Regions from separate parts of the Homo sapiens genome. Here regions 1, 3 and 4 are each linked to region 2. Evidence: fine-mapped expression QTL. A gene starts in region 2. Each other region holds a variant in brackets. All regions are shown on one strand. Distances are between the middles of the regions. Region 1 overlaps CHD5 (chromodomain helicase DNA binding protein 5). Region 2 holds the start of CHD5 (chromodomain helicase DNA binding protein 5). Region 3 overlaps CHD5 (chromodomain helicase DNA binding protein 5). Region 4 overlaps CHD5 (chromodomain helicase DNA binding protein 5).

Evidence for each region.
Region 1: its variant is fine-mapped to the expression of CHD5 in whole blood (TOPMed, PIP above 0.99).
Region 3: its variant is fine-mapped to the expression of CHD5 in whole blood (TOPMed, PIP above 0.99).
Region 4: its variant is fine-mapped to the expression of CHD5 in whole blood (TOPMed, PIP above 0.99).

What each region holds. Positions count from the first base shown.
Region 1 is chr1:6,152,758-6,157,591 of GRCh38, forward strand. CHD5 (chromodomain helicase DNA binding protein 5) reads right to left here. Exons shown (of 42, transcript NM_015557.3): 4 at 2,842-2,960; 5 at 1,903-2,141. Among named protein-coding and RNA genes, the nearest start is that of CHD5, 25 kb to the right of the region's middle. The variant C/T (reference allele first, on the strand shown) is at 2,710.
Region 2 is chr1:6,177,591-6,182,424 of GRCh38, forward strand. CHD5 (chromodomain helicase DNA binding protein 5) reads right to left here and starts at 2,731. Exons shown (of 42, transcript NM_015557.3): 1 at 2,355-2,731. The coding sequence starts at 2,433. RefSeq lists enhancers at 987-1,488, 1,489-1,988.
Region 3 is chr1:6,129,555-6,134,388 of GRCh38, forward strand. CHD5 (chromodomain helicase DNA binding protein 5) reads right to left here. Exons shown (of 42, transcript NM_015557.3): 20 at 4,574-4,705; 21 at 2,077-2,194; 22 at 650-774. Among named protein-coding and RNA genes, the nearest start is that of CHD5, 48 kb to the right of the region's middle. The variant GC/G (reference allele first, on the strand shown) is at 2,523.
Region 4 is chr1:6,145,041-6,149,874 of GRCh38, forward strand. It overlaps CHD5 (chromodomain helicase DNA binding protein 5), which reads right to left. Exons shown (of 42, transcript NM_015557.3): 8 at 4,206-4,372; 9 at 3,814-4,035; 10 at 1,625-1,831; 11 at 1,172-1,383. Among named protein-coding and RNA genes, the nearest start is that of CHD5, 33 kb to the right of the region's middle. The variant A/G (reference allele first, on the strand shown) is at 2,698.

The DNA of each region.
Region 1 (4,834 bases), 25 kb before region 2:
TGACCGCCTTGCTGCCCCTTGTCCATGACCCACAGAAATGTGGCCCTTTTGGGAGGATCCCCTATACCGTCTCCAACCACTGAAAGGAGGCACTAGCCATCCCCCACAGCCAGCAGGGCCACTGAAGGCACAGCCGCCCACCTGTGGTCCATGCCTGAGCCCCCAAAGGATGTCTTGGAGCCAAAAGGCCTTTTCCCACCTGCCAGCCAGGCAATGCTGGTCCCACCCAAGACTGCCCCACCTCTGCCAGTCAACCCCAGCAAGGGCCAGCAGGGCTGAGGCTGTTTTTATGGAGCTGGCCACAGGGCAATTAGCTACCTGGGGAGTAATGACCCAAGAAGGAAGGGGGGCCTGGAGGCAGGGATGCACACCCCACAGAGGCAGCCTCTCCCCAGGCCGTCCTCTGGCCACACCACACACACGGACATGGAGCTAGGAGCCCAGCTGCACCCTCCATGGCGCCGCGGAAAATCTATTTCAATTTTCCAAGCTCTGAATAAGCAGCTCATGGAATCGATAGCTCAGCAGCTGGAGCGCGAGAGGAAATGAGAAAACAAGGCAGGCTGGGCAGACAGGGGCGGGCCAGGAGCCCCTCCCGAGATCCTGATGGCCCAGACAGATGGAGCAGGACAGGGAACAGACTCTGACCCTTGTCACTTCACCCACCAGGCTCCCTTCAGAGACTTGGCATGGTGATGCCAGACACAGAACCCCAGAAACTAAAGCTCCTTGGGGCTGAAAGAAGGGATCCCCGGAGCCCCCTCAGCCCCTTCCATCAAAACCCAAATCAGCCAGACGCGGTGGCTCACACCTGCAATCCCAGCACTTTGGGAGGCCGAGGTGGGCAGATCACCTGAGGTCAGGAGTTCTGAGACCAGCCTGGCCAACACGGTGAAACCCCGTCTCTACTAAAAATACAAAAAATTAGCCAGGTGTGGTGATGCACTCCTGTAATCCCAGCTACTCAGGAGGCTGAGGCAGGAGAATTGCTTGAACCCAGGAGGCGGAGGTTGCAGTGTGCAGAGATCGTGCCACTGCACTCCAGCCTGGGAGACAGAGTGAGAGTCTGTCAAAACAAAACAAAACAAAACAAAACAAATCAGGGCACCCAGGAAAGCTGAGCTGCAGGTGACTGACAGCCCTGGGGAGATCAACATCCCCAGCCTCCAAAAGGCCAGAAACCTGCACCCAGAAAGCTCCCTCCCCAGGGCCTTCAAGTCACAGGGGGCCTCTGCTGCCTGCATCCTCCCCACCCAGACGCCCTGCCACTGAGGCAGAATTTGGATCTCGATCTCCTTCCAGGCCTGTCCCAGAACAGCCTCCCTGGGAAGCGAGACCTGGCCGTGCCCAGTCCCTCCAACTCCTGCCTGCTTCCCGGATCCTAAAGCTGGAGGGGCAGGGCCTCCATGCTCCACATTGGCCGAGGGCCTGGAGAACAACCCTGCACACAGTGGGTATGCAGACAAGAAGAAGAGACGGGCTCGACTGGGGCCTCCTCCTCCTCCCCAGAAACGGCACAGGCTCAAACCCAAGAGCCTGCCAACTCCCAGAAACCCAGGCTGGAGCGGCTCCACTCTGCGTACCTCTGGTCCCGCCCTCCCTCCAGGCCCACGTCGGGGGCACCTCCTGGCTGGCCAGGCTCAAACCTCCCAGACCTCTGCCCACATCATCGCCTCTGCTTCTCCACCAACCCCAAAAGGGAGTCAGGCACAAAAGAGGCGACGATGCTGCCTCACTGCTGAGAAAGGACCGGGCAATCCAAGGTCACACAGGCACAGAGCCCTCCATTAGGAGCACCCCAGCTGCCCCTCCCTGCCCGCGTCTGCCCCGTGGCTTCTCCTATAGGGTCTGAAAGGGACCTCTTCCCAGCGGGACTAGGTGCCCACCCAACCCCAGCCTTACCTTTGCCCTCCTTGGTCTTGGCCTTGCGGATAGGCACAGGCTGGGGCACCTGCGGGGGGCTGACGGCTAGCGGAGGGGAGATGGTGACCGTCTCTACAGCCGCAGCCACCGCCGCCGCCGCTGCTGCCGCGGAGCTGCCCTTGAAGGGGTTGTTGGCGCTGAACTCCCGCCACTTGGCACCCAGGACGGTCATCATTTTGGACATGGGGATCTTCGGGTTCTTCTTGGCAATGAGTGGCCTGTAGGGGGAGAGGCAGGAGGGTGAGGGCAAGGCCAGGTGAGATGAGAGGCCCACCCGACCCCCGGCAGGGCCCACCCCTCTGCCACATGTGCGATCTATGGCAGCAGCCCCAGGTTCCTGATTAGAGAGATTAGGCGGGAAACCCACTGACCACAGCCCACCCCCAAAACGCCCCAGCTTCCTGTCCACACCCACAGCCCACCCCCAAAACACCCAGCTTCCTGTCCACACCCACAGCCCACCCCCAAAACACCCAGCTTCCTGTCCACACCCACAGCCCACCCCCAAAACACCCCAGCTTCCTGTCCACACAGTTGGTGATTTTCTCATTGGGTTTTCAGGCCCTGCAAGACTTGTGGGGCCACAGGTGGGCTACAGTGGGCCTTGGGGTCTCCGTCCCACCTCTACCAGAGCTGAGAGGCCATGGTGGTGAAAGACCCCCCAGGAAAGACTGGAACCACCTTCCCCAAGGGGAAGAGACTCAAGGGCTGAGGGGCAGGGCCCACAAGGGAAGGCCTGGTGGTCTGTTAACATGAAGGGGTCCTGCCCCCTCCCTCCAGCTCCCC[C/T]AGGTTGCTCAGTCGGTCTGACAGAGCCCACCCCTACCCCAGGTGCCGGGGCTTCACTCCTCTGCCTCCCTCCCGACTTGGTACCACCAGAGGATGTGCGGGCCTGGAGAACAGCCCTAGTGCCCCGCCCACCTGAGGAACTGGCTGAAGGCCTTGTAGTTGGTCAGCGTGTGGTAATCCTCCTCCGAGAACAGGTAGTCCACGTCGTCCAGGCCCCACTCGGCCATGAGCTGCCCCGAGGACTTGGGCTCCTACAGAGACCCAGGCCAGAGGTAGAGTTGTTGAGGGGCCTTCTGACCTGCACCCCCATCCCCAGGGTCTCTGCCTAGGAGGCTTTGGCACAGGGGAAAGAGGAGGGGTTGTGTCTGCAATGTAACCAGACCATTCTCACCCACCCTAGGAAACATTCAAGCCCTGCAGCCCCGCAGCCCCGCAGCCCCCAATCTGTGCCACGTCTCAGATGCCAGCCCACGAAGTGCAGGCCAAGTGTTCGACGTCAGGGTTTGGGGAGAGGCCATGTGTGTGCCCTGAACTTCCAGAAAGGGAAATCAGCCAGGTGTGGGCAAGGAGACTGGATGCCTGAGACCAGGCCCCCATCCTGAGATAGGGCTGCCCGACCAGCCTCGGGACACCAGGGCAGGACAACAGAACTTGCCCTCTGTGGGGACTGCATTCTGGGGATTTGGACAGCAGGACAGCACAGTGGCCTGAAGACGGGAAGATGTCCCTGATGAGGCCGCAGGGCTCCAGGGCTGCCTAAGCCACTTTAGAAAGACATGAGGCCTCCAGGCCAGGGGTGGTGGCTCACGCCCGTAATCCCAACACTTTGGGAGGCCAAGGCAGACAGATCATTTGAGGTCAGGAGTTAGAGACCAGCCGGGCCAACATGCTGAAACCCTGTCTCTACTAAAATACAAAAATTAGTTGGGTGTGTTGGTGTGTGCCTGTAATCTCAGCTATTTGTGAGCCTGAGGCAGGAGAATCACTTGAACTCGGGAGACGGAGGTTGCAGTGAGCCGAGATGGCGCCACTGCACTCCAGCCTGGGTGACAGAGCAAGATTCTGTCTCAAAAAAAAAAAAAAAAAAAAAGACATGAGGCCTCCCCAGGATGCCAGGTATAGCTACGTCAGCCCTTGTGAAGGACAGGCCACTGCCAGTTTCCAGTGAAAGGAAAGTGCACTCTGCTGGGGCAGGGGCATGGGACAATGGGCCAGCTGGGGGCACAGCCCAGAGAGGATCCAACTACTGCTGAGGCCTGGGGTGGAGGGACATCCTGGGGGCACAGCCCTGAGAGGATCCAACTACTGCTGAGGCCTGGGGTGGGGGGACATCCCAGGGGCACAGTGAGTTCTCAAGAGAGCTAGCCCAGGGGTCAGGTGACCAGATGACCAGGCCCGGGCTGGCGGGGCTCAGAAAGGGAGGTGCCGGATGTGGGCATGGGCTGGTTCTGATCCTGGCTCTGCCACATACCGGTGGTAAGAAGTGGATAAGTTACTTAACTTTCCTGCCTCGGTTTCCCCATCTGTAAAATGGAGATAATGGCACACTGCCTTGCAGAACAGAATGACTTAGTGCAGGTGCTTGGAACAGGGTGTGTCAAAATGCGTTAGCAATTGTTAGCACCCAACCCACCCTTCTTCTTCCTTCCCTGACACCCCACTTCTTCCAAGCAGCCCTGAGCTGCCCCCACCCAACCTGATACATTAAGCCAATCAGTACACACCACTCCTAGGCCAAAGTCTGGTCAGGCCAGTCATGTCTTAAGCCAGTCCAATCAGAGGGAATGCTGGTCTCCTGCCTGCATACCTGGACATGGGAGGCCTGCTCTCCCTCCTGCTGGAGGGGCCAAGAAGCCCCGAGCTGCTGCTGCCCTCATTCTCAGCCACAAGAATGCTCAGCCATGAGGGTGCCTGGCCTGAGCCCAACACTGCCACAGCAGAGGCAGAGTGAATGATGCAAAGAGACAGCCTCTGATAACACCACTGGGTCCCACAACCCCGAAGCCCCTTGCCTCTTAGTTCTCAGGGCCCTGATCCCACACATCCCTCTACTGCCTAGGCCCCGGAGCTGGGCTTCTGCTCCTGCAACAGGAGGCTGCCCTGAGCGTCTCCCAGCACTGAGAAC
Region 2 (4,834 bases):
TTCAAATCCAGCTTGGGCAACACAGCAAGACCCCATCTCTTCCAAAGAAAGCATGACAATGTGTCTCAGAGTGACTGGAAGGCCCTTAGCAAGGGTGTCCCTCCCCATCATAACATTCGAGCTGGGACCTAAATGACCAGGAGGCAGCGGTGAGCAGAGGAAAGAGCAGGTCAGGCAGAGGTCACAGCCAGGGCCCCATGGCAGGATGGAGCGTGGAGCGTGGAGTGTTCCAGAAGCAGCAAGGAGGCCAGCGTGGCTGCTGTGAACAAAGGGGTACAGGAGTGGACCCGGGACAAGGGTTTCAGAGGCGACTGGAGCCATGCGGGTCGGGATCTGACTTGGGTTCACGAGGTGACCCCAGCTGCTGTGCAGTGGGTGGTCAGAAGGAGTGGGTAGAAGGCCCTGGAGGGGACCGGCAGGAGGGGACAGAGGCTTGGACCCAGAACATGGAGAGAAGCCAGGAGCCTGGAAAGGCTCTGGAGGTGGAGCAGCTGGCCTTGCTGATGGATGGGGACAGAATCCCCAGGCCAGAGGTGCCAGAGCAGGGCGTCTCTTCTGCAGGGCTCTGGGGGCACTCCTGGAGGCTCTGGGGCCAACCCACCGAGGGGGAGCACGGGTGGTGGGCAGGATGACCAGAGCCCCGCCTCTCTGGCCCAAGCAGTGAGTCGGGTGCCTACTAGACTGGGGGCACCTTCCCTGGCCTCTTCCCCTCCCCAACCTCTAAGTCCCCACATAGTCAGAGAGAGCCGGAGTGTAAGATGGGAAAGACAGCCAGGGGACTCCACCAGCGGGTCGGTGCAACCCCAGAAATGCCACTGATCCCACAAAAGGGCCACACCCCAAACACCATAACAAACAACTTGCTGAGAAAACCAGTAAACTGGCTTACTGGGGAGCCAGCCTCCTAGGTGGAAAATGGCCACTGATTTTTTTTTGTGCCTGTGCGGGGCCTCAGAGTTCCCCTCCGGAGAATGGGTCTAATTCCAAGGACCCAGGATATGACAGTCAACTATTGTCCAGGCAACTCCACCCCAAGAGAGGACTCCCCTATTCCCCGTCCCCAGCACGCTCGCTGCCAACTTGGCCTGTCTAACAGGCGAGGTGAGTGCCGGGCTCCTGTAGGAGCTCAGTGACAGCATTAAAGCCACCAACTAACCAAGCAAGCAAACAGAAGGGGGCAGGGGGTGTGGCCACCTGGTGGGAATACCCTCCCCAGAAGACGCTGGCTGCTTCCTCCAACAGGAGCTGGAGGTGTCCATTTGTGGAGTCTTCTCACCCCTGGAAGTCAGAAGGGGCCAGATGCACGTTCCTGGGCCCGGGAGGGCCTCCAGCCTCCCACAAGTCTCTCCGAAGTCCAGAGAGGCCACAGACTTGGCGCAGGGAAGCCGAGAAGTAAGAGTCTCCCAGAAAGGAGGGAGGGTGGCTGACAGGGTGGGGCCCTACCCAGCTGTGCCAGGAGGGAAAACGTCCCAAACAAATGGTGAGCAGTTAACTAAAGAACTGTCCCGCAAGGCAACCCCTGGCGCACAGCCCTGTGTATACTAAATTCTGAGAGAGATAAAAGGAGAGAGATGGTAGGGGCAGGGGCGGTGGCCCTGGGGCGTCAGGCCCGTAGCCAAGGCAGGGTGGGCTGGGAACGGCCACCACCCTGGGCGATGGTGAGGCTGGAGACAGCGGCGGGCGCTAGGTCGCGCCAGAAGGACGCCGGCGGCCCGGGTAAAGTGCTTGGGAGCGGCGGTCACAGCGCACAGAGGCCAGGAAAGAGGAGCAGGGGTCCGAGCCCGTGCGTCCCAGAGCGGAGTCCTCCTGGGCCGGGAGGGAAGCCGCCCCATCCTGGGCGCTCAACGCGTCCCCAAGCACCGCCGGTCCTCGCCCCTCTCTGGGCCCCACCCAGCCCGCCCCGCGGCCGACATGGGCCAGGGGCCGGGTCCCGCCTGCCCGCAGCGAGGCCAGAGGCGCACGGCGGCGGGACGCGAGCGCGGGGTGCGCCGCTCCGGGAGCTAGCGCGATTCCCGCCCCCTTCAAGGGCACGCGGGCTGACCCTGACAGCGCCGCGCCCCCCAGCGCAGGCCCCGGCCCGCGGTCCTCTGGCCCGCCTGGCCCGCGTCGCCGCCCGGGGGGCCCGGATCGCACCCCGCCCTTAGCCGCCCTCACGCCGGCCCGGGCGCTCACCCAGCCTTCGCCCTTGGCCGCGCGGCGCCAGCAGGGCGGGAGCGCAGCCCCGCAACCCGGGTGCCCCTCCTGCGAGGCGCCAGCCCGGCCGCGCCGCCCCCGCCGCCCGCGCTCCGCCCTGGGCCCGGCCCGTCTCGGCGCCCCCGCCGCTCTGGCCCCAGGCGCACCCGCGCCCCGCTCACCTGACATCTCGTCCTCATTCTCCATCTCCTCGGCGAACAGCCGCGGCAGCTCCTCCTCGGTGCCCACTGGGCCCCGCATGCCCGGCGCGGGGAGGAGGGGAGGTGGGCGCCCCCCCTCCCGCCGGGCGCGGTGCCAGCCTTAACCCGTGCGCTGCCGGACCGGCGCGCGCGGCGGGCGAGGCGGCCTCGGCGAGAAGATGGCGGCCGCCTGCCCCCCCACCCCCCCAAACCTCCACCCCCCCGTCTCGACCCCCCTTTCTCTCGGCCGCCTTAGCCTGCTCCCCGCAAAGCCCGGGCGCTCCTCCCACCGCGCCCCGCAGCCCGAGTCCCGCAGCCGGCCGAGGGTGGCGGCGGCAGCGCCAGAGGCACGGCGGCACGGCGGGGGGGCGGCACACATGCCCGGATTGTGACGTCCAGTCTGGTTGCTGTGGCAACCCCATCCCATCGTTCCGGCAGCGCGACTAGTTAACAGCAGAGAACAAGTTGGGGGACTAGTCCTGAGCCGCCGGGTGAGGGTGGGGACCGGGGGGCGCCCCGGCAGGGGGAGCCGTCGAGGCGTCCGCGCGCCCGCGGACCCGACGGCCGAGCGGGCAGTCGGGGCTTGGCGAGCCCGGGCGCAGGGGGAGGCGAGGAAACACCGCCCCCGCGCACCCCGGGCAGAGCCAGCCGCCGCCGCTCGCCTGCGAAGGCGCTGGGCCCCGAGCCCCCAAGGGCGCGGAGGCAGGGTCTTCAGGGCAGCGCGCGGCCCGCTCCCCCACTCGGTTCACAGGCGCCGGGACCCACCCCGCTCCCGGCTCCGGCCTCGGCACGTTCCTAACCCCCTCTCCAAAGAGGATTAGAAGAAAAATGTGTTCCACACTTGGGGAAAAGACGCTCTGGAGACTGTGGGTCTGATTTACAGCAGAAAAATCCGCGCAGGCGGGCTCCCCTCACCTGCTTCCCCGCTCCCACCGCCCACGTGCCCCCTTCCAAAAAGCCCCTCCAGGCTGGGTGCAGCTGAAACCCATGCAGACCCCTAGGGGTGGTGCGGATCTGCGATGTCTGTGCCCAAAACTCCCGCTCAGAAGCGACACCTGTCGCAGAGCAGGAAGGAGCCGCCGCCACCAGCCCTCGGTCGTTAAAGGTGAAGATGGAGGCCAAAGCCCTCGGGAGCAAGACTGGAATTTTAAATGAGCGCCTCCAGTCTCCGCGGCGGCAAGTCTTAAAGCTACCTTAAGAACGCAAAAGTTCCAGGGGCTGGCCGACCGCCAGCTCTCTAACCCCAGAAGGCCCGTGAAGGGAGGGCCCCCTCTCACTGCCTCGCAGGGGCACTGGGGGAACCCACCTGAGACACGCAGGATCGGCAGCAGTTTCCCTTCTTCCCGTTCAATTTTATTGCCAGCAAACCCCAAACAAAAGACCCTCTGCATTCATCCCTGGGCAAGGAGAGGTCGGTCCAGCCTTCTGGAACCAAAGACTGGGGTGTTGGGAACCCCTCCATCTCCCAGATCCGCTTTAACTACGCTGTAGATAGAGAAGCCGGGTCAGCCCAGTGCTGGCCGCCTGCAAGGGGAAAGGAACACTCTTCAGGGAAGCAGGCCAGGAAACCAAAGGGCCTCCCCTCCCAAGGCCGTGTTTCCCCACAGAGCAGCTAGCCAGGGGGAGCCCCAGATCACCGAGGCTTGAACCAAACCTGCCTCTTCCTCGTTCTTTCCAGACCAACTGCCTCCATGAATGGTGACCAACAAGGGAAGAAAGCCCTAAGCTGACACGCCCACCCCTCAGTTACCAGCCCCCCAACACCTCTCTAATCCCTTTCAAAGGTCCCCTGCCCTTCGGTAGAAAAACTCTGATTTACAATACTTCTCATCACCAGAAAGCCGCCCCCATCATTAACCCTGGCTCCAATTCCCAAGGCGAGGCTGAAAGTCAAGATATCGTTCAAGAAAGAACAGTTCTAACTGCTTAATCTGGCAACAAATTAGAGCCGAGATGCTCATCAGTCATAATCCTCTCCCCATCCTGTTCTTCCCGATGACTGCAACTAGGTAATATTATTTAATGTCCAAAAGCAAAATGAAACAAAAACTGGAATGCTAGAAACAAATGGATTTTTTTACTACAAATCTCCAGGTTTTTTGGGTTTTTTTTTTCAAGGGGGGGAGTTGAGATGGTGTCTGTCGTCAGGCTGGGGTGCAGTGGCGCAATCTCAGCTCACTGCAAATCTCCGCCTCCCGGGTTCAAGCGATTCCCCTGCCTCAGCCTCCCCAGTAGCAGCTGGGACTACAGGCGCGCACCACCACACCTGGCTAATTTTTTGTATTTTGGTAGAGACAGAGTTTCACCCTGTTGGCCAGGATGATCTCAATCTCCTGACCTCGTGATCCGCCTGCCTCGGCCTCCCAAAGTGCTGGGATTACAGGCGTGAGCCACCATGCCCGGCTCTCCAGTCATTTTTAAAGGTGAGCCCTTATTATTGTTAAACTATTAAATGGGTATTT
Region 3 (4,834 bases), 48 kb before region 2:
TACATGAGGTGACCTGGGTGTGGCCGTGTATATCTGTGTATGTGCATGGGCGCACACACATGTGAATGAGACATCAATTTGTATGTGTTCCCCTACATTTGTAAGCATTCAATGTGTGTGTCCCAGCGCCCGAGAGGGGTGGCCAGGTACACTAGGGTGGCTCTATTCCCATACCCCTCCCCCCACAGCCCTTCCATCCTTCCTTACAGCCCCATCTGCCCCTTGCACTATCTTATCCTCCCCTCCACCTCCAACAGGCCCCACTCTCTGCTCCCCACCCCCTTCAAAATGGGTGCCCCTCTGGGTCCCAGGGCTCCCTCTTCCTGCCTCCCTCCACGGCCTTGGTCCTGAGGATGATGGGAAAGACCAGATCAGTGGCCACTAGGAACTGCTGTGCGCCCTGGGACACTTCCCCTGCCCTCTCCAAGCCTGCTTCCTCCTCTGGACAAGGACAGAGCTGGAGGGATGGGGGCCAAGCTTCCACTCACTCCCAGAGCCCCTCTTGGGGCCGAGACTCCACGGGGGAGGGAGGCCCACAGCACCAGGATAGGTGAGGGGGTGATGGCAAGAAGGGCATGAAGGACAGAACCTGCCTGAGGCCCGGGATGAGAGGCCCCCTGGGAGGGTGGTGGGCGGCAGCAGCACAGACCTGGATGTCATTGTGCGGGTTCCAGTCCGAGTCGTAGATGATGACAGTGTCCGCCGTGGCCAGGTTGATGCCCAGACCACCTGCCCGGGTTGAGAGGAGGAAGCAGAACTGCTGGGCCCCGGGGGCTGAAAAAGAGAGGCCAGCAGATGGGAGTGTTTGGGGGGGTACACCTTGGGTGGGCAGAAAGGATGGGGGAGAGAACAGAGAGAAGGAACTGCAGCAACAGATCCCTGGCAGAGAAGGACAAAGCCGGAGACCCCATCAGAGACGGGTGGCCACAGCTGCACTCAGGGGAGCCAGAGGAGGCCTGCCCAAGCCCACTTAGCCCCCAGCGAGCTCTGAGCCCTAGTGCAGTGGGAGGGCACTGGAACGAGGAGGTCAATTTTCAAACCCCAGATGAGCAAAAAACAAAGTGCAAGCCGCCAGCAAGTACAAGCAGAGCCCTAGAGAGCTCAGAGTCCTTCATGTCCCCGCAGCTTCCCACCCCTGGCTTCCCTTAGCCCACCGATGCTGCCAGGGCAGCCCGGGAAAACTCAGGGGCGCAGCTCCGGGACCTGGGGTCCCACCCCACTGGGCAACCCTGTCACAGGATGGCTGGTTCTCAGCCTCTCAGGGCCCTTCAGTGACCTGGGACTGACCACAGCCCCCACTGGAGCTGCAAACAGGCCCCTGGCACACCCAGGGCTTCAGCCACTCCTGCTTCCACATGTGGCTGGGCCACGTCTAGACCCTGAAACTCTGAACTTGCTATTCCTCCTGGCTCTCTGGCACAAGTGTTTGAGAGGAATCACTGCTTTGGGCGTTTGGAGAGCGTGGCCCCAGCCCCTAAGGGCTGACGCCCCAGGGAAACAAAGCTTGTTACTATTTGCTGCAAACTTGCTACTGAAGCTTACAGCCGACTGCTTCCCACTCCAGAAGTTTCTTTTGCTACAGGAGGAACTCCACCGGCAAGACCCTCCTGACCTCCACCCTCGCCTCTCCTTCCCAGGCAGGGAAGACCAAGCATGGGTGACTCTGGGGAAAGAGCCTGATCATGTGTGGCCCAGCCCTTTCACTCTCTCCTGCCTCTGGAAGTGGCCCCAGGTAGCACGTGCATCTCTGTACCTTCTGCCACCATTCACCATACGGCAGGCTCTGTCCAACACCACTTGTAACTGGGGCTCACCTGGCGTCAATATTAGAGGCCCCGTCTGCGTTTCTCATTGTCTAACTCCATTCCCAACAGGTGTTATCTACTGGGCCCCTCAGAACTCCGATTCCATGGGAGGAATCCTTTTAACATTGGAAACTCGGACTGGCCTGCTGTCTTTAGCTGTTTGTGAGGCTGCTCAACACAACACCAGCTGGGTGACCTGGCTAAGAACCAGGCCTGGGAGAAGAGGCCAAAAAGGAGTCTCAATCAGAACCCTTGGGCAGGATGGGGGTACCATTGAATCTGTCGATTGCCTCCTGCCGGAGGCCCCCGGTGATGCCACCATCAATCCGCTCATACTTGTAGCCTTCGTACTCCAGGAAGTCCTCCAGGAGGTCCAGCATCTTGGTCATCTGCAGGGGAGACGGGCACGTGAGGAACTGCCAAGGAGCAAGGGGCCCCATGGGCCATGGGCGGGGACCCCGCCACAGGCAGGGGAGGAGAGAGCTGCCTGCTAGGTGGGGAGACAGCTGGGACCCAGGCAGGCCCAATGCAGGACTCTGGGGAAGAACAAAGCTTCCAACCTCACCCCTTGGAGCCAATCCATCCTCCTGCCTAGCCCCACAGCCACTTACCTAAATCAGGGCTCTGACATGAGCCTCCCCTGCTCCCACCACACAGAATTAAGTTCCATCTCACTGCCCTGTATTCAAGGCGCTGCAGGACGAGTGCTCCTTCACA[GC/G]CCCCAGCCATTCCAAACTACCTGACTCTCTTCCTGGAATGCCCACCCCCTTACTGCCTAGGGAACATAAACATCACCTCTGTGATGTCTTCCCTGATTTCACTCCTCCCCATAAGAAAAGAAAGGCAGTCCCTTCTGAGCTCCCATGACCCCGTATAATTCCCTTTATTCTCGAGAGAGAGTTTAGCTGGATATAAAACTATCAGCACACATTTTCCCTCAGTGCACCGGAGATTTTGCCATGGTCTCTGCCACCTGTTGTTGTTAAGAAGTCTGAGAACGATCTGGCTGCCCTTATTTTGTAGGTACTAGGTCTAAAGTACCTAGAGGTTCTAACGTGTCTACGGGTTCATTTATTTATATTTATCTTGCTTGCTATTCCAGAATGCACTCCAGATCTGAGACCTCACATTTCTCTCCAGGTCTGCAAACTCTCAACAAATCCAACTTCTTCACCATTTTTTCTGTTTCTTCTGCAACTCCAATTGGATGATTGTTGGAGCATCTCAAGGTGTCTTCCATGTTCTCCCTGTTTTATCTTTGTCTCTGTACATTGCATTCTGGGAAAATGCCTCAGCACCAGGTTCCAATTTATCAATGTTCTCTTCAACAGTGTTCAGAGTCTGTCCAGTCTGTTGAAATGTTTTATCTCAATTTCATGCATGTTTCTATCCAATTGTTCCTATTTCAGTTCTTCCTGCTTTTGCTTAATTTCTTCTTTATTTTAGGGTGTCAATTACTCCATCATTTTTGAGGATCCTAAACACATCTATGTAAAGTCTTTTCAGGCTATCCTATTCTTTTCTCTCTCTCTCTCTCTCTCTCTCTCTCTCAAGAGACAGGGTCTTGCTCTGTCACTCAGACTGGAGTGAAGTGACAAGATCACAGCTCACTGCAACCCTGAACTCCTGGGCTCAAGCAATCCTCCTGCCTCAACCTCCCAAGTCGCTGAGATTACAGGGTGAGCCACTGCGCCCAGCCCCTATTTTCTTATTTGGATTCTATTTATTGTTTTGGGGGATGTCTCAGCATTCACTTTTGTATGGGTTTGGAATTGGGGTTCATAGGCTCATTTTGGGCAGGAGGGCCCCGTCTCTGTCGCTTGCCCTGTGTGCACATTTCTGGAAGCTGTGTGGTTCCCATTACTTGGTATCTCAAGGCCTCTGATCAGACTTGCGTCTCGTGTTGGTACCGAGGTACTGGGGGGATGTGGGTCCATCTCCACTCCAGCCCACTCCTTGGCTCAGCCCCTGGTCTCAAACTTGCCCTGCTTTCCAGTATTCTTCGGGCTGAAGCAGCCCAGCAGGGTGACCTGGGGCTGCAGGCGGCGGACGCTGCTTTCAGTTGATGTTTGTGCACAAGGAGCCATAGCCCAGACTCTGGGTTTGAGCAAGGGGCCTGGCTCAGTGGGCCCACGAGAGGAGCATTTTTAGCCCCATGACCCTGTAGGATCATCACTGTGGCCTCCAACACAGAGCTGACCACAGGGTCGGGTACCTGTCCCTTGAGCTGTCTCCCACAGTAGACTGAGCAGCTTGAGGACAGGGACTAGATCACTGGTCCCTGCACCCATGTGCCAGCACAGAGCCTGACTATGACAGACGCAAACAAAGGGATGGAGGAAGAAATGAACACACCTGAGCCGGCGGCCCTGCCTCCAAGCCAAAAAGCCAGGTGCCAGTGGCCCCTCAGGGCCTATTGGAGAGAGGGGCTCCTCCCAACCACACCCCAGGGCCCTACCTTAATGAGAAGCCAGGCTGCGGGGGAGAGGGCCAGGGCAGGGGAGGAGGGGCTGTCCTACCAGCCTGGACATGCAGACCAGAAGGGCAGGTGTGGGGAGATGTTGCTCTTTATGGCAAATGTGTTCTGAGCTCCTCAGCCGCATTATGCCAGGGCACGGGGGAGTGACCCCTGACACACAGTCACATGACCCACATGGGAACGGCACTGGGCCCTGAGGGGTGCCAGCAAGTTTGCGCCCCCAAGCATCAGGGCAGGATGCTCTCTGTGGGGTGTGGAGCCGGGGCGGGGGTGGGCAGGGGCAGCGCACCTGGGAGAAGATGAGCACACGGTGCCCCTCATCCCGCAGTTTCTTCAGCATCTTCTGTAGCAGCATGAGCTTCCCTGAAGACTTGACCAGGGAGCTTCCATCGTAGGAGCCATTGGGCAAGACAGGGGCCTCCTGCAGACACAGCAGGAGGTGGGGCATTGGTGGGCTCCCCTCTCCTCTCTGACTCTGCACCAAAGGGGCCGCAGGGAACAGACAAGTGCTGAGCAATGGGGTGATGGCCTGTCTGCCCACTGAACATGA
Region 4 (4,834 bases), 33 kb before region 2:
AATTCATTGCCGGGCTCAGGTTCCCACAGGAACTGACCCTTGAAGGTCATTCTCAGGGAGGCCTGGGGAGGAAAAGGGGGGTGTCCCATAGTTGAAGGGGGGCAGTTTTTCAAATTCCGCGACCCTCGTACTGAAGACCACCCACAGCCAGCCTCTGGCAAGCTCCTGTCACCCGTGCAGCAGCCTGTTCCCTAAAAGGGCCTCAAAGCTCAGCAGATGGGAACCGGGATTGAAATCTGAACATCTGGCTCAGGCTTTTAACCTCTGCTCTACCCAACAGCTGCCTGAAGCCAGAAGCACTGAGTGTCAGAGGCCACCGATCCTAAGCCCCTCAAAAACAGAGGCCACAGGGTAGCTGGGATGGGGAGCACAAGCTCCAAGCTGCCACCAGGCAGCAGGTACTCTGGGCCCCACCCCAAGGCCCATCTGTCAGCCACCACCAGTTCTCAAGCACCTCAACTCAAGAATCAGCAGGCATTCCCACCACCCACCAAATCAAAACCAAAGCCCACGGGCCTCCTGCCTCTGGCTCTTTGTGCCAGCCTCCTGCAGCCTCTGATTGCTAAGGCATCCCAGGGAACTGCCAGACTGCTCCAGGAAGAGCTGCTGCTGGGGCACTGGGGGGTGCAACAGTAGCTAAGAAAGCAGGTCCTGCAGTCAGAAAGCATGGGGTTCAAATCCCAGCTCCACCCCGTGGCTGTGTGATTCTGGCGACTTAACCTTGCTGTGCCTATTCTCACATCAGTAAAACAGAGGTGAAAGTAAGACGCCTCCCTCCCAGGGTAGGCAGTGCTCAGTACAGCCAGCTGCTGTTACAAACGCGGGGGAAATGTGGACATACTCCCACACCTCGGGCGTCCCTCGTCCTCAGAACCCTCTTGCTGGTATCAAGCACTAACCCAGCATGAGGGTCCCGACGCCCCAGGGGTGTGAACACGTATGCATGAGTGTGCCGGCATGCATGGGACGGCCCCTCTAGCAGGTCAGGCAGATCTCCAGCACTGGGAACCCTGGGCCCTTCCTTGTGCCCCTGCTGTGCCCACATGTGGTTCTGCACGGCAGCCCCAAAGCAAGGGCCCTGGCACCCTGCGCTGCACCCATTTTACAGGGCAAAGAAGCTGACGTGGCCCGGCCCCAGCGATGGGCAGGGTGGCCGCCTGCAGGCACACACCTATGGTTCAGGATTCGGTGAATCATCATCCACTCTGGCTTGATGCCATAGCGGTAGAAGCGCTCCTCCATCTTGGCATAGAGGGGGTCCTTGTTCTTCCTCTTCTCGCTCTTGCCGTCTTCATCCCCAGAGCCGTAGTCAAAGGGGGGCGGCTCATCCATGTCGTTCTTTCTTTGGTAGTTGCGATACATCACCGTGTGGTACAGCTCCAGCTGCTCATGGAGCGGCACAAAGTCACAGAAGGGAGATGGGCCATGGTCCCCTGCATCTCCCTACCCAGCTCCTCTAGCCCCAGCCCAGGTCCCAGGCAGGACAATCCTCCCGCTCAGCACCACCCCAACTCCCAACAGCACCCCTCAGTCAGAGGCGCTTCAGCCCCTTCCCGCCAGCCCAGGAGGGTCCAGGGCTCACCAGGTCCCGGGCCTTAGCACAGCCACCCTCCCGGGCACTCACCTGTAGCTCCTTCACCCAGGAGCAATGCCAGTAGGACAGCCCTGCCCACTTGACAAAGAACTCTCTCTCAGGGATGCCCTCCAGGGGCTTAGGTGGAGGGAGGCTGGGCTCCACGTCAGGCCCCGGCAGCCCCACCATGAAGGGGGCAGGGGGCTCCGTCCACCTCCAGTGTAGAATCCGCTGGACTTTGCCCTTCAGTGGGGGGCACTGTGGACAGAGAAGGGTCCCCAAGGTGGGGCTCAGCTGCAGGGCCCCACCCTGAGGCTCCCATGACAGCAGGCTGCCATGCAGGCTCCCTCCCATCAGTGCCACTGCCCCCAAGTCAGAACAGTACCACGGTGACGCCATGACATCCACCCCGTCCCCAGGAGCCGCATGGGTCATGCACACAGGAGATGGGCAGTGGGGGTCTGTGAGACCACGTGGCCCTTTCACTCAATGGTGAACTTATCGGCACCCAGAATATCTGAGCCAGCGTAGGTGAGACTGCCATGTGCATAGGACAGAGGGGGAAACTGAGGCCCACTCGGCAAGGGACAGCAGAGCAGGGAGCAGAACATGAGATTCTGGACTTCCCCTACCTTAGGTCTTCCCATTGCCCCCTGAAAAGAGGTCACATCACTGTGTGATCCCCAAGCACTCAGGGAGCATGAGCCCTGTGCTGGAGCCCAGGGACACGGCAGCCCCATCCACCATCCCTCACCCGGGGCAGGGCTGCACCCAGGCACCGTGCGTCTAGGCTGGGACAATGAGGCCCCATCTCTGGCAGCCCACAGACACACTGCAGGGGCCCTGACAGATGCTAGGGTGACAGTGAGCTGCTGGCTGGCAAAGGCAAGAAATACAACAGCCACAAACCACACCACTCGGGCCCTGAGATGGGTGGGAGCAGCCTTGGCCCTCCAAGGAGGCGGTGCTGTCTGACTGGACAGGGTCGGGGGTGACTGATTCAGGGAGACAGCTCTGGTGGGGATAGCAGGTCCCAGCTTTGCTACTACCTGTCCTCGGAAACTCATCCAAGCCTCCAGAGCCTGCTTTCCCATCTGTAAAATGGCCCACCCCTTCCTCCACCT[A/G]CCAGATCTGTGGTGCCACATCACACCTGAAGGCATTCTGGAGGTGCAAGGTACACCACACAGCCAGCCTTCCTTTGGCCTTGGTGACAGCAAAGGCCGAGAGGCAGAGGAGGAGGAGGAGGACATGGGAGGCAGGAAAGGCTCCTCCACTGGCTCTTGGGGGAGTGGAAGAGGGGACCCTTCCTACCCAGGCCATGGACCCTCCTACCCCCATCCCAGCCCCTCAGGGAAGAAGCTGAGAGGAACCCCACTCCTGCCCCCCTCCCATCCCCAGGGCCTTCCATCAATCCTAGGAAAGCACAGAAGGCTGCACCCCTCAAAAGGGTCCTCCCCTGGCCCCTACACAGACACAGACAAGTATGCGCACGGATGCACGCACACACATACACACGCACAATGCACACAGGACGGCCCAGGGCTAAAGGAGGCACAGCCCAGGACCTGAGGGGTGGAGGATCTGGCACCACAGGGGGCAGGACAGACAGCTCAGAGCAAGGGGCCTTCCGATGTCTACTGTGACTGGGGGGTGACGGATGGGGGGTGCCCCTCTTCCTGTAGAAACTGAGGCTCCCGCCCTAGGAGCCTCCTGCCCTAGAAGCCTCCTGCCCTCTCCCTATCCCCAGCCTTGGAACAGGAGCCAGGTCTGGGGTGGCTCCAGGAACCTGAATTTGAGTGGATAGTTCTGCCCTTGTGTGGCCTTAGGCAGGTCACTCTGCTTCCCTGAGCATCAGTTTTCTCATCTAAAAAGGGAGTAACATGCCTGGTGCCAGAATACTCAGTAATGTTAAAGGACACTATGATGGATGTGGAGCCCTTGCAGAGCACGTGGTCACTGAACAGTGGTCGCGGTGTTGGCATGATCACCACACCTGTCTGCCTTTCCCTAACACTCATGCCTCCCGTCTCTAGGGGAGTCAGACGCGGAGAAGGGCGCGAGGAAGCTATTGTGGACGGGGTCTCGAGCAGCGCGGGCGAAGCTTTGCGGGATCGGCTACCGAGGCGGGGCAGGAGCCGGCAGGGGCGGGGCCTTTTGAGGAGGGCAGGCCTTCCCCTGGGGGCGGGGCCTGTTCCTGGGGTGGGGCGGGGCGTCCGGCGCGGGGCGGGCGGAACACTCACAGTACAGCGCGGGCAGAGCCATTCACCGTTTGGGATCTCGGGCAGCGGCGGGTTGAGGCAATGCAGGTGGTAGGAGGAGGGGCAGGCGTCGCAGCAGAGCAGCTCGCCCCCGTCCTTGCACACGCGGCAGAACTCCATGTGGTCGTCCTCCTCCTCCTCGCAGCCGCCCTCCTCCTCTTCATCGTCGTCGTCCTTCGGCTCCCACTGGATCCCCTCCTTCTCCTGGGGGAGGAGGCCAGGTGGAGGCACCCTGGGCGGGGTCCCCGCTCCACCAGGCCCGACTCCCTCCCTCCCCTACAGCATCTCCCCGCATTCTGCCCCCAAATGAGGGCACAGGGGTGGGGGAGCCAGGCGTGGCCCCGCCCCCAGCCCGGGGCTCTGCCAAGGCTTACACAGTGGGGGCAGCTCCACTTGCCCTCGGGAGCCTTCTCCAGCTCTGGGTCCAGGCATACGAGATGGTAGGCCCTCGGGCAGGTGTCGCACAGGATGATCTCCCCACCCTGCTGGCACACCTCACAGTAATCCTGGTGGTCTGTCTCATAGCCGTCACCATCATCAACTAGGGTAGGGGAGAGGCAGTCATGGAAGTCCTCATCCACACTCCCAGCACACAACCAACTGCATCGCCCCAGGCCAGACAGGCACAGAGTAGATGTCTAATAGAGGGTGGATGGAAAGGTGGGTGGGTGAATAGACTGATGGTTGAGGTGGTAAAAGGGTGAGGAGATAGAAGATGGATAAAAGGAAAGAAGGAAGGAAGGAAGGGTAGGAGAGTGGGTGGATGGGTAGAAAGATGAATGGATAAATGGATGATGGATGGATAGACAAATGGATGGATAGATGAATGGATGGACAAATGGATGGATGGATGGATGATGAATGGACAAATGGATGGACAAATGGAAATGGGTGGACTGATGGATGGATGGATGGATGGACAAATGGATGGATGGATAGGTGGATGGAAGGATGGATGGATGATGAATGGACAAATGGACGGATGATGGATGGATGGATGGAT